2 linked regions of the Homo sapiens genome follow. The protein of the gene in region 2 purifies or fractionates together with the protein of the main gene of each other region. This does not show direct contact. Each region holds a gene or a part of one and is shown on either strand. Other genes may lie near its edges.

The links. The genes of interacting proteins can lie anywhere in the genome.
Region 1: the proteins of ADD3 (region 2) and MLPH purify together in Homo sapiens (affinity purification with mass spectrometry; one large-scale study listed by BioGRID and IntAct). This does not show direct contact.

The regions. Positions count from the first base shown.
Region 1 is NC_000002.12:237,528,321-237,533,160, forward strand, and holds part of MLPH (melanophilin), read left to right. Parts: intron 1-4,840. UniProt on the Homo sapiens protein: Rab effector protein involved in melanosome transport. Serves as link between melanosome-bound RAB27A and the motor protein MYO5A.
Region 2 is NC_000010.11:110,115,080-110,119,919, reverse strand, and holds part of ADD3 (gamma-adducin), read right to left. Parts: intron 3,662-4,840; coding exon 3,510-3,661; intron 2,579-3,509; coding exon 2,498-2,578; intron 1,334-2,497; coding exon 1,184-1,333; intron 710-1,183; coding exon 566-709; intron 455-565; coding exon 356-454; intron 1-355. UniProt on the Homo sapiens protein: Membrane-cytoskeleton-associated protein that promotes the assembly of the spectrin-actin network. Plays a role in actin filament capping. Binds to calmodulin.

The DNA of each region.
Region 1 (4,840 bases), on a different chromosome or scaffold from region 2:
AATAATCTTTAGTCTTTCAAAAAATTTATTTTTTTTTAATTTTTTTTTGAGATGGAGTCTCCCTCTGTGGCCCAGGCTGGAGTGTAATGGCGCAATCTCGGCTCACTGCAACCTCCACCTCCCGGGTTCAAGTGATTCTCCCTCCTCAGCCTCCTGAGTAGCTGGGAATACAGGCGTGCACCACCATGCCTGGCTAATTTTTGTATTTTTAGTAGAGACGGGGTTTCACCTTGTTGGCCAGGCTAGCCTCAAACTCCAGGCCTCAGGTGATCCCCCCACCTTGGCCTCCCAAAGTGCTGACATTACAAGCGTGAGCCACTGTGACGTACAATTCAGTGACAGTACATTTACAGTGTTGTGTAACCACCACCTCTCTCTAATTCCAAAACAACTTCACCCCCCAAAAAAATCCCATACCCATGAAGCAGTTACTTCCCAGTCTCCCTTGTCCCCGGCCTCTGACAACTACCAGTCTTCCTTCTGTCTCAATGGATTTGTCTATTCTGGACATTTCATGTAAATGGACTCACAGAAGGACATCTGGCCTTTTGTCACGAGCTCCTTTCACCGAGCATAATGCTTCTGAGGTCCATCCATGCTGTAGCACATATGGGTGCTTCATTCCTTTTTATGAAAATATATATTTTATACTTGATCAAGTATTATATATTTTACAAGAGGAGGAAATAATCTGTCAGCTATGTGAAACGCTTAGCAGGCTGTATTATTATTATTTTTTTTAGAAAGAGTGTTGCTCTGTTACCCAGGCTGGAGTTTAGTGGAGCAATCTCGGCTCACTGCAAGCTCCGCCTCCTGGGTTCAAGCGATTCTCCTGCCTCCCCTTCCTGAGTAGCTGGGATCACAGGCGCCCACCACCACGCCCGGCTAATTTTTGTATTTTTAGTAGAGATGGGGTTTCACCATGCTGACCAGTCTGGTCTTGAACTCTTGACCTCCAGTAATCTGCCCACCTCGGCCTCCCAAAGTGTTGGGATTACAGGTGTGAGCCTCCATGCCCAGCCCCTTAGCAGGCTTTATATAGGCATTAAGAAACTCTGCTCATAATACTTAACACCTGTTAAATTAGTAGAATCACTCACATTGTAGACATTAACTTATGAAATAATTCATCACAAGATTCAAGTGCCCTGAGTTCCGCTTGCTGCATTTAAATGATGATTCTGTTGAGTCAGCTGATTTCAATTTGAGCAAGTTCATGTTACCGGGGGAAAGGCAATATTGTTTCTTCTGAGAACATCATGACCACTAGGTTCTTTAAGGCAATGAAAGACACAGGCTATTAATGTCTCTGATAGAGCCTTGACTCCAGCAACGTAATCACAGGATGGGGGACTGTTCTGTAACTGATGACTCTTGAGGCATGAAACCCAGAGAAGGGGAAGTGGGGCTGCTCTGAATGGAGACCGGAACCGCAGTTTCACCAAGGCTGGTCTCAGGCACATCTTCTGGAGCCTGGATGAATGTAGGGCCAGCTCCTTGGGCATGGTGATGCCTGGTACAGAGCCCCTCCTCCCTCCTCCTGGGAGAGCTGGGGAAGGGAATGCCCTGTGGAGCTTCCCTTCGGGCCTGTGGGCTCTGGGCTGTCAGGAGGGAGGCTAAGTGAAAGCTGAGCCTTGTCAGGAAAGGCCTGGAAGCAGCGAGGACGCAGGTGGTGCACAGCTGGGGTTCTCAAGGGGCAGGCGAGGTGGGCAGGGCACGCAGAAGCTGCTCTGCAGGGTCTAGGGCTTCTCCAGCGCCCTGGCCTTTCGGTGCACAGGACGACCTGAGATGGAGCATCACCCAGCTCTTCAGCCACAGGGCTGCAGATTCCTCTCCCAAGGCCTTGGCCTACACTGTGGCAGTCACTAGACCAGCACTGGCTCACGAGTGGGCAACAGGAAGTATGCAGTAGGCCCTGGGCTTTTCCGAGCCCTCATTCAGCAGGAAATCTGTCCCGTGGCTGTTCTCACAGGGCCAAACCTTCGCGTGCATGATAGGTGAGGGGCTCCTCCGACATCCTGTCACTTTGCTTCTGCACCCAGAGAAATGATCTACCAAAAATGAGCACCTGAATTTCAAAAAGAGACTTCCTTAGCATGGCAATATGGGGAATCATAGGGGTTTGGGTTCTAAAATTGGGCTAGTGTCCACGGGGCAGAAGCATGCAGTTTCTGAATTCAGCATCTCTCTGGACTCAGTGTCCTCAGCTGACTTTTTACTGTAGTGTCATCTGGAAGCTTCCTCAACCCTGGGTGGAAGTTTCTCCTGCACCAACTTCCTTGAGGGCCCACTTAGTCTCTGAAAGAAGCACTCTTGCCCCTGAGCATAGCCGGGCATGAAAGGCCCTGACAAGGCCTGCGTGAAGACTGCTTATGGCCGCGTCACCCATTGGGGCCCACAATTCCTGAGGCATGGAACTCCTTTTGTGTAACAGCAAGCAAGGCCCTGACACAAGGAAGTGTCCTTTCATTCAGATCAGGGAGTGACTGGCTTGGCCCCTGCAGTTTCTGTGTCCCGAGAGGACTTGAAACCTGCAGGTATGCTGAGCTCTGGCGGGGACTCAGAGCAGACCCAGTGCTGCAGCAGTCAAGCCTCCACCACCTGCATTCGCAGGTCTAGTTCTGCAACACGGAACACACACAAGTCGAGCAGAGCCACTTCATTACTCACAGTCAGGCAGCGAGGTCCCCCAGGCTCAGGGAAGCTGCAGGGAGGGTGGAGTATCGGCTGCAAGTATCCTGTGTCATGCGGCAGCTGGGGGGTCCCAGAAAGCATTCCTCTCTGAGTCTTATACCCTGGGAAACTGGGATCACTGGGCCAAAGGATATCCAGTTCTAGAGCCCAGGTTCTAGACAGTCCAGACAGTTCTTCCTTACATCAGGAAGTGGCTTTCTTGACACATTCTACAGTTATTCTGAGAAAAGGGGAAGAGCCAACTCAGCCAAGTCCATCCAGGGACCTGTGGATGCAGGGGACAGTGGAGGACTAGGGTGGCCAGGATAGAGACCTCCCCAGTGTGGCCAGGATAGAGACCTCTTGGGTGAGGCCAGCATAGAGACCTCTCAGGGTGGCCAGGTAGAGACCCATGGGACATCCTTGGCTGGCTGAGCATCTCCTAGTCTCCTAGCCTGAAGACAACAGGATGAAGAGGAGAATCAAGTTGTCTATTTTCAGTAAACCTGTAGTTTAGCAACTTTAGTAGCCTTTAGTAAAATACATAGCGTGGTTTCCAGCCCCACTGAAACCAATTATCCTTTATACCTGCTTGGAATTATTCTCTAGTTCATGTTTGTATATCCTGCCTGTGGAATTGTTTCTCTTTATTTATTCCTATTAACTTGTATTTACTTTGCCAACCCTAAATAATGAGATTCAGAAAATATAAATAAGTATTAGTATATCAAGTTTATCAGAACAAAAGCTTGACAGTGGCCACCCAGAAACACAGACTTCAAACAAATGGGGCCCAAAGTGGACTAGTGAAGTTTTCACCTATGTAGAAATTGTAGCAGGATCACAACCTTGCAAAGGAACAGTGACCTGGGGGGCCCTTATCTCCAATCCTGTTTGGTCTTAATTATTCACAGGGAAAAAAAAAGTAGAAGTTTCAGCTGTGAAACATGTCCTCTCAAGACTCAGAATTTAAAGTTCCAACAGCTTTGTTTGAATTATTCAATGTGACAACCTCAACTAATATTTCACCTAGATTGTTTCCCATGCATCTTTATATGGAGGAAATTAAGCAGCAGAAAGAAGCTCCAAATGCAGCAGCGATCCTGTACTTCAGAGAAAACCCAGGCAGACTCTTAGAGGGGCCTTTGTGAAGTGGCTGTGGTGGGACCCCAGGAGGAAGCACTCTCAATCTGCCCATCAACCCCAAGACTCCCAGCCATGCCCTCAGGGCCTGAGCTTTCTCAGGAATCGTATTTTATCACAGCTCATCTGAGGGGTCAGGCAGCTGTGCATTGCCTGCCTTTGCATTTGTATTGACAGTCACAGCTTTCCCGACGAGGGGTAAAGACTTCCTGTAGATATTGTTCAAGCCCAGACAAGGCCCAAGATGGCACAAGCATGTGGTAGGAAGGAAGTTTCTAAGGGGCTGAGATGGGAGACGGGAGAGGAAACGGCCCTGGCACGCACCCTCCGCCCCCTCACTCCCAAGGGCCGGCCCTGGGGCCATTCGTGTGTGCTCGGGCTACAGACACTGACGGTTTCCCATAAAAGTGTCACCAGTGACATATTTTGTTGGTTTGCTTTAATCCCTAGCTAGTGTCTGTATTGCATTTGTAAACTCTAAACTTTGGTATTGTCGCGAGTTGAAAGCTCAAGGGGTTCCTACCTAGTATTCTGTCCGTACATATCTAAGTAATGTGATAATCCTGATGACTGGTGCCCACACAGGGTCAGATGCCCACGTCTGAGTGATGCTACTCCCACCAGAGCAGTTGTTACTGTTGGAGAAATATAATTTTTAGAAAAACCCGAAATCTTTTCATTACCCAGAAAATCTCTCCATAAGGGTAGCAGAGGAAGAAGACAGATTTATTCTTGAACAAGCATCAAACCAGAATATGGCACGTGCCCCAGGCAATCCGCTGAGAGATTGCAAAGACAGGAAGGCCTCTCAGCCCTTCTGCAGCCCGGCAGGCCCGGCCCATTCCACACAGTTCTCAGCACAAACCATCACCAGTCCTTACCAATGAGAGGAGCTGATGGTGCCTTTGATCACAGTGTACATCCTCACTCTAGCATCATAACCGGGAGACCACTTGTGTTGGCTTTAACCCTAAGAAAAGCAACCTTCTCACACATCTTTAAGATGGGAGCTAGTTTTGCAAAC
Region 2 (4,840 bases):
AAGTGACCACAACACATTTGATTCTTGATTTGCAGCTGTTTTTCTTCCTTAATTAGTACCACCACTACAGGGTGAAAACAGAAATATGCAATTGTACTAACTTAAAAAGCAGGATTGTAGGGAAAATGATGTTTATGAGGCCCTTAGATTGTGTGTGAGAAAATTTTAATTTCCTTTACTCCTATTTTCAATTCAAGAGATAACTGAGTTGAAAACCCTGCCTACATAAGTAGAGCAGAACTTCTCTTAAAAGACAAAAAGCCACTAACTAATATGTATTTGCAAATAAGTACACAAAATCCAACTAAACGAGCAAATAACAAAGCAATTAAAAAAGGGGAATAATGTTTCCTACCTGAATCTCACAGGCTAGTTGCACATTAAAAATATAATGAAAAGCCTCCTCTAATGTTTCTCCAAGTGCAACCACACCATGATTCCTGAGTACCAGCACCTAAAATAGAATGCCCACAGCAATCACTTGAAATAACTGGCATAGCTCACACTGTTTTCATCAACAGCAGCAGCAACAAAAATAGCTCCTTAGACAAACTCTACTACATACCTTACAACTTGGTCCCAGAACCTTCTGCAGTTGAATTCTCTCCTCCTGTTCTTCAAGTGACCCTTGGTAGTCATAATAGGCAACATCTCCCAGAAGAAGAGACTCTTGAGAAATTGGAAGGATCCCACATTTCATGGAGGATACCTATTTGGTTTGGCCCATACCAAGATAACACATTTGGTTACTAAATACATTTTCATAGGAACCTGATTGTTTGGTCAGCTCAGGAAAACACTGGCCTATTCACTGTGTTTCACCATTGCAGCCCACTTCCCACTTTATTCACTTCCCATTTTGTTTCTTCCACACACACACAAAAAGGACTTAGGGAATACAACTCAACTTATATGCTGTGTCAAATATTATGAAAGAAGCTTTGCTCCAAAAAACTCAATGACCCAATTTTCAAACTGGTTAGTTTTAGAATCCAAATGTTATTTCTCCAGTTGTTTCCTAGAATGGTAGCATTTGGTCCCAAAGGCCTTTTGCTTTCTGGGTATGCAGATTATTGTATCAAATATGATTTTGAAAAGCAGATAGTAAAGCATCCTGTTGAGAAAGCCACAAAAATAATACATCTTCCAGCGTCCTGTCAGTTTTGGACTTTCATTGACTTACAGCTGCTGTTGCAAGGGTATGGATGTGTATCACACACTTAACATCAGGACGTGTTGAATAGATTGCAGCATGGGGACTGAATCCTGTATGGTCAATTTTCAAATTGGTACTTCCCTGGTCAACCACTTCTCCTATTATATTGACTTTCACCTGGAAAAAATCAGAAGGACATATTTAACTGGTATATACGTATCAAAGTTTGTGTTTCACAAGCTAAACCAGGGGGTAGCAAACCTTTTTGTAAAAGGTCAGATAGCAAATATTTTGGACTTTGTGGGCCTCTGCTGCAATTACTCAAATCTGCAGCTGCAGTACAAAAGCAGCCATAAACAATCTGTAAGTTAACAGGTATAGCTTTGTTCCCATAAAACTTTATTTATAAAACAGGTGCAACAAAACTTGGTACTTGGCAAGAAGTACAGTTTCCAAGAAAAGGAGAAACTTAAGCTCTTCATCGGAGGTCTGAACAAGTCTGGCATGTATAGAATTGGCTAGAAAACTTCTATTTGCTAACATTGCAGCAAGCACCCAGAACCAAGGTAGCTCCTGTCACTCTGTAAGCTGATGACAGTGGCTAGGAGTAGTCATGGAAAAGATAAAATACTAAGGTCAGATCCTATACTCATACCAGCTGAACTTTGTTTAAATCTAGCTATGAACATTGTGTGTGTGTGTGTGTGTGTGTGTGTGTGTGTGTGTGTGTGTGTGTGTGTGTGTATTGAAGACAGAGTCTCGCCCTGTAGCCCAGGCTGGAGTGCAATGGTGCGATCTTGGCTCACTGCAACCTCTACCTTATGGATTCAAGCGATTCTCCTGCCTCAGCCTCCCGAGTAGCCGGGATTACAGGTGTGTGCCACCACGCCCAGCTAATTTTTTGTTATCTTTAGTAGAGATGGGGTTTCACCATGTTGGTCAGGCTGGTCTTGAACTCCTGACCTCGTGATCCACTTGCCTCAGCCTCCCAAAGTGCTTGGATTACAGGCGTGAGCCACTGCACCTGGCCGTGTGTGTTTTTTTTACACAATTTTTTTACACAAATTTCTGAGTGTATAGGGTGGTAAAAAAAAAAAAATCACGATTCCCTTCAAAACATAGACAAGTTAACTGATAAGACCAACTCATTTATTAGTCTCTTCAATTACGCTATTCTCTAAAGCTTTTCCCTAAAACAACATAGTTCAAATTCCCTTCACTGTTCACTAGTAAATGTTTTTCCATCCATACCTTCTTATTCTGTCCTGTGCTAAAAGCTAAGAACTGTCAGAAAAGCCAAAGAAAGCTCAGAAAAAGCAACACAGGAATGGAAAATTATACCAAATTGGAGGCTGTAGCTTCAGAAAAAGATAGGCCTCTGGGAATTATTATAATGTGGTCTTGCTCCTTACTTATTCTTACCTGGAAAAAAAAACAACAGGGAATTACTATGAAGTGGTTCATATTTTGCAGTGGAAACATGACTACAAATATATTTACAATGAATAATTGTAAGAGATCAGGAAAAAAAAAACCAACAAAGCAAAAATTAAAGGTCTACAACATGAAACTTTCCTAAAGTTTCCCTCAAGTACTTGCTAAAAAATTCTGACTTTAGTTTCTTATTTACTGGACTTACCTAAAAGTGTTATTTTGGGGCTCTAAGGTTATTTAGGGTCAGCTATGTTCATGAAAAATAAATGCTAATATTATTCAAGCCAATGTGGTAATAATTATAACCTTAATTTATAACTTGGAAGTTAAGGCAAAATGGGCAAAGGAAAGAGAACAAAATCTCTTCCTAGGAAGGAATTAAAATAAAGATGGAAGGTGGAAAGGAAGAAAGATTCTTGATGGACTGCATCTGTACCATTTCCATTGTACAATATTTTAATCCTCTTTTGTTTCCAAATAGCATCTTTTTCCAAGTGTGGCAAAATAAAAATATGATGGTGAATGGAAAGAATATATTTTAAAAATAAAGACCAGGGAGGAAACTTCCCTGACCTCCTCTATCTTCCTTGCCTCAAATGCTTTTTAAAGCCACTGATGCTCAGACATAATTATCATGGAGAGGGACAATTTTGCCAGAAGGATTTCTTCCTGGATAGATTCTACAGTTGGTCTGAACCAAAGGAACTTGGAACAACATAGATAGTAAGGGGAGAAGAAAGGTGGGGGAATTGGAGCCTCTCCCTTGGGTATAAGGTTTAAATCAGTATTTGGTTGTGATCTAGCATACTAGGTTTAGAGAATAAGTCTGAAAACTGGACTTCCAGGTAAAGGTAAGAAGAGTATAGTTGCCTTCTAGCTGGAATTTTTTAAAAAAGGAATTGAAAGCTGAAGAACTCACTGAGATATAGGTATTTGCCAGGTGTGCCCATCCAAACAAGTCTACAAGTCTGTACAGGCTGGCAAGTTTACAGCGAGTAAGTTTTTCTCCCTTCACATATGAGGATGTATCTGCACCAGGAAGGTCATTGATAGGTGTGACCATGCCAAGACCTAAAAGAGCAAAAAATGTGGAGAGAGATACGAGTCATGCAATCCCTTACCTGGAAATTAGTTGCCAGGAAGTAGCCTGCGTCTGGGAGTATCCCAGCCTTGTATATAATAATCTGAAATTTATCAGCCCATATAATATTTTATTAGCTTATTCTCCTTCAGAGAGGTAAACTGAGAGTAAAAATAAGTATCAGCTATCTTTGATTGCTTAGTAAAAGTTGCTTCATGTAGTGCTTGCTAAGGAGTGACTATATCAAAGGCTCACACCACTGGGGAAAAATGGTTACACATATCTCCGAGGGTAAAAGTGTTAAATACTGAGGTTACTGCTAGTTTTATGATGAAAAGACCTCAACAGAAAGCTACTTTTCTATTATCTCTCTTGACTTTTATTCAAACACAAAAAACATTTGAGATGGAAAATAATGCATGCAAATAGTAGTATGATTTCTGTCCTATTGAAGGTCTTGAAGGTCTCTAATGATCTAATTGCCAAGTTCAGCTGTTACCAAGTTCAACTTTTGCTCAGTCTTCATTCTCCTTGACCTCTTTACAGCTTTACACTATTTACACTGCCTCATTCCTAGAACTCTTCTCGAGGCCCATGTGATACTATCCTAGATCTCTTATTCCTTGTCTACATGCTTTTCTCCTTTAACAAGTTCATCTGTTCCCTTTGCCCAGCTTTGGCTCTTCCCCAAAGCTCAGTCCTCCACTATGTTCTTTCTCATTTTACTTTTCCCTACAAAAACATTATAGACTCTTGAGCCTCCCTATTGTTATTTTTGTGTAGACGACTCACTCCCTGGTCTTTAGTTCTGATCAGGTCCTCCTCCCCATTTTCCAGCCTGCTTGTTTTGTTTTTTTTTGAGACGGAGTTTCACTCTTGTTGCCCAGGTTTGAGTGCAATGGTACGATCTCGGCTCACTGCAACATCCACCTCCCAGGTTCAAAGCGATTCTCCCGCCTCAGCCTCCTGAGAAGCTGGGATTACAGGCATGTGCCACCAGGCCCAGCTAATTTTGTATTTTAGTAGAGACAGGTTTTTTCCTTGTTGGTCAGGGTGGTCTTGAACTCCTGACCTCAGATGATCCACCTGCCTTGGCCTCCCAGAGTGCTGGGATTATAGGCCTGAGCCACTGCAACTGGCCCCACCCTTTTTTTTTTTTTTTTTTTTTA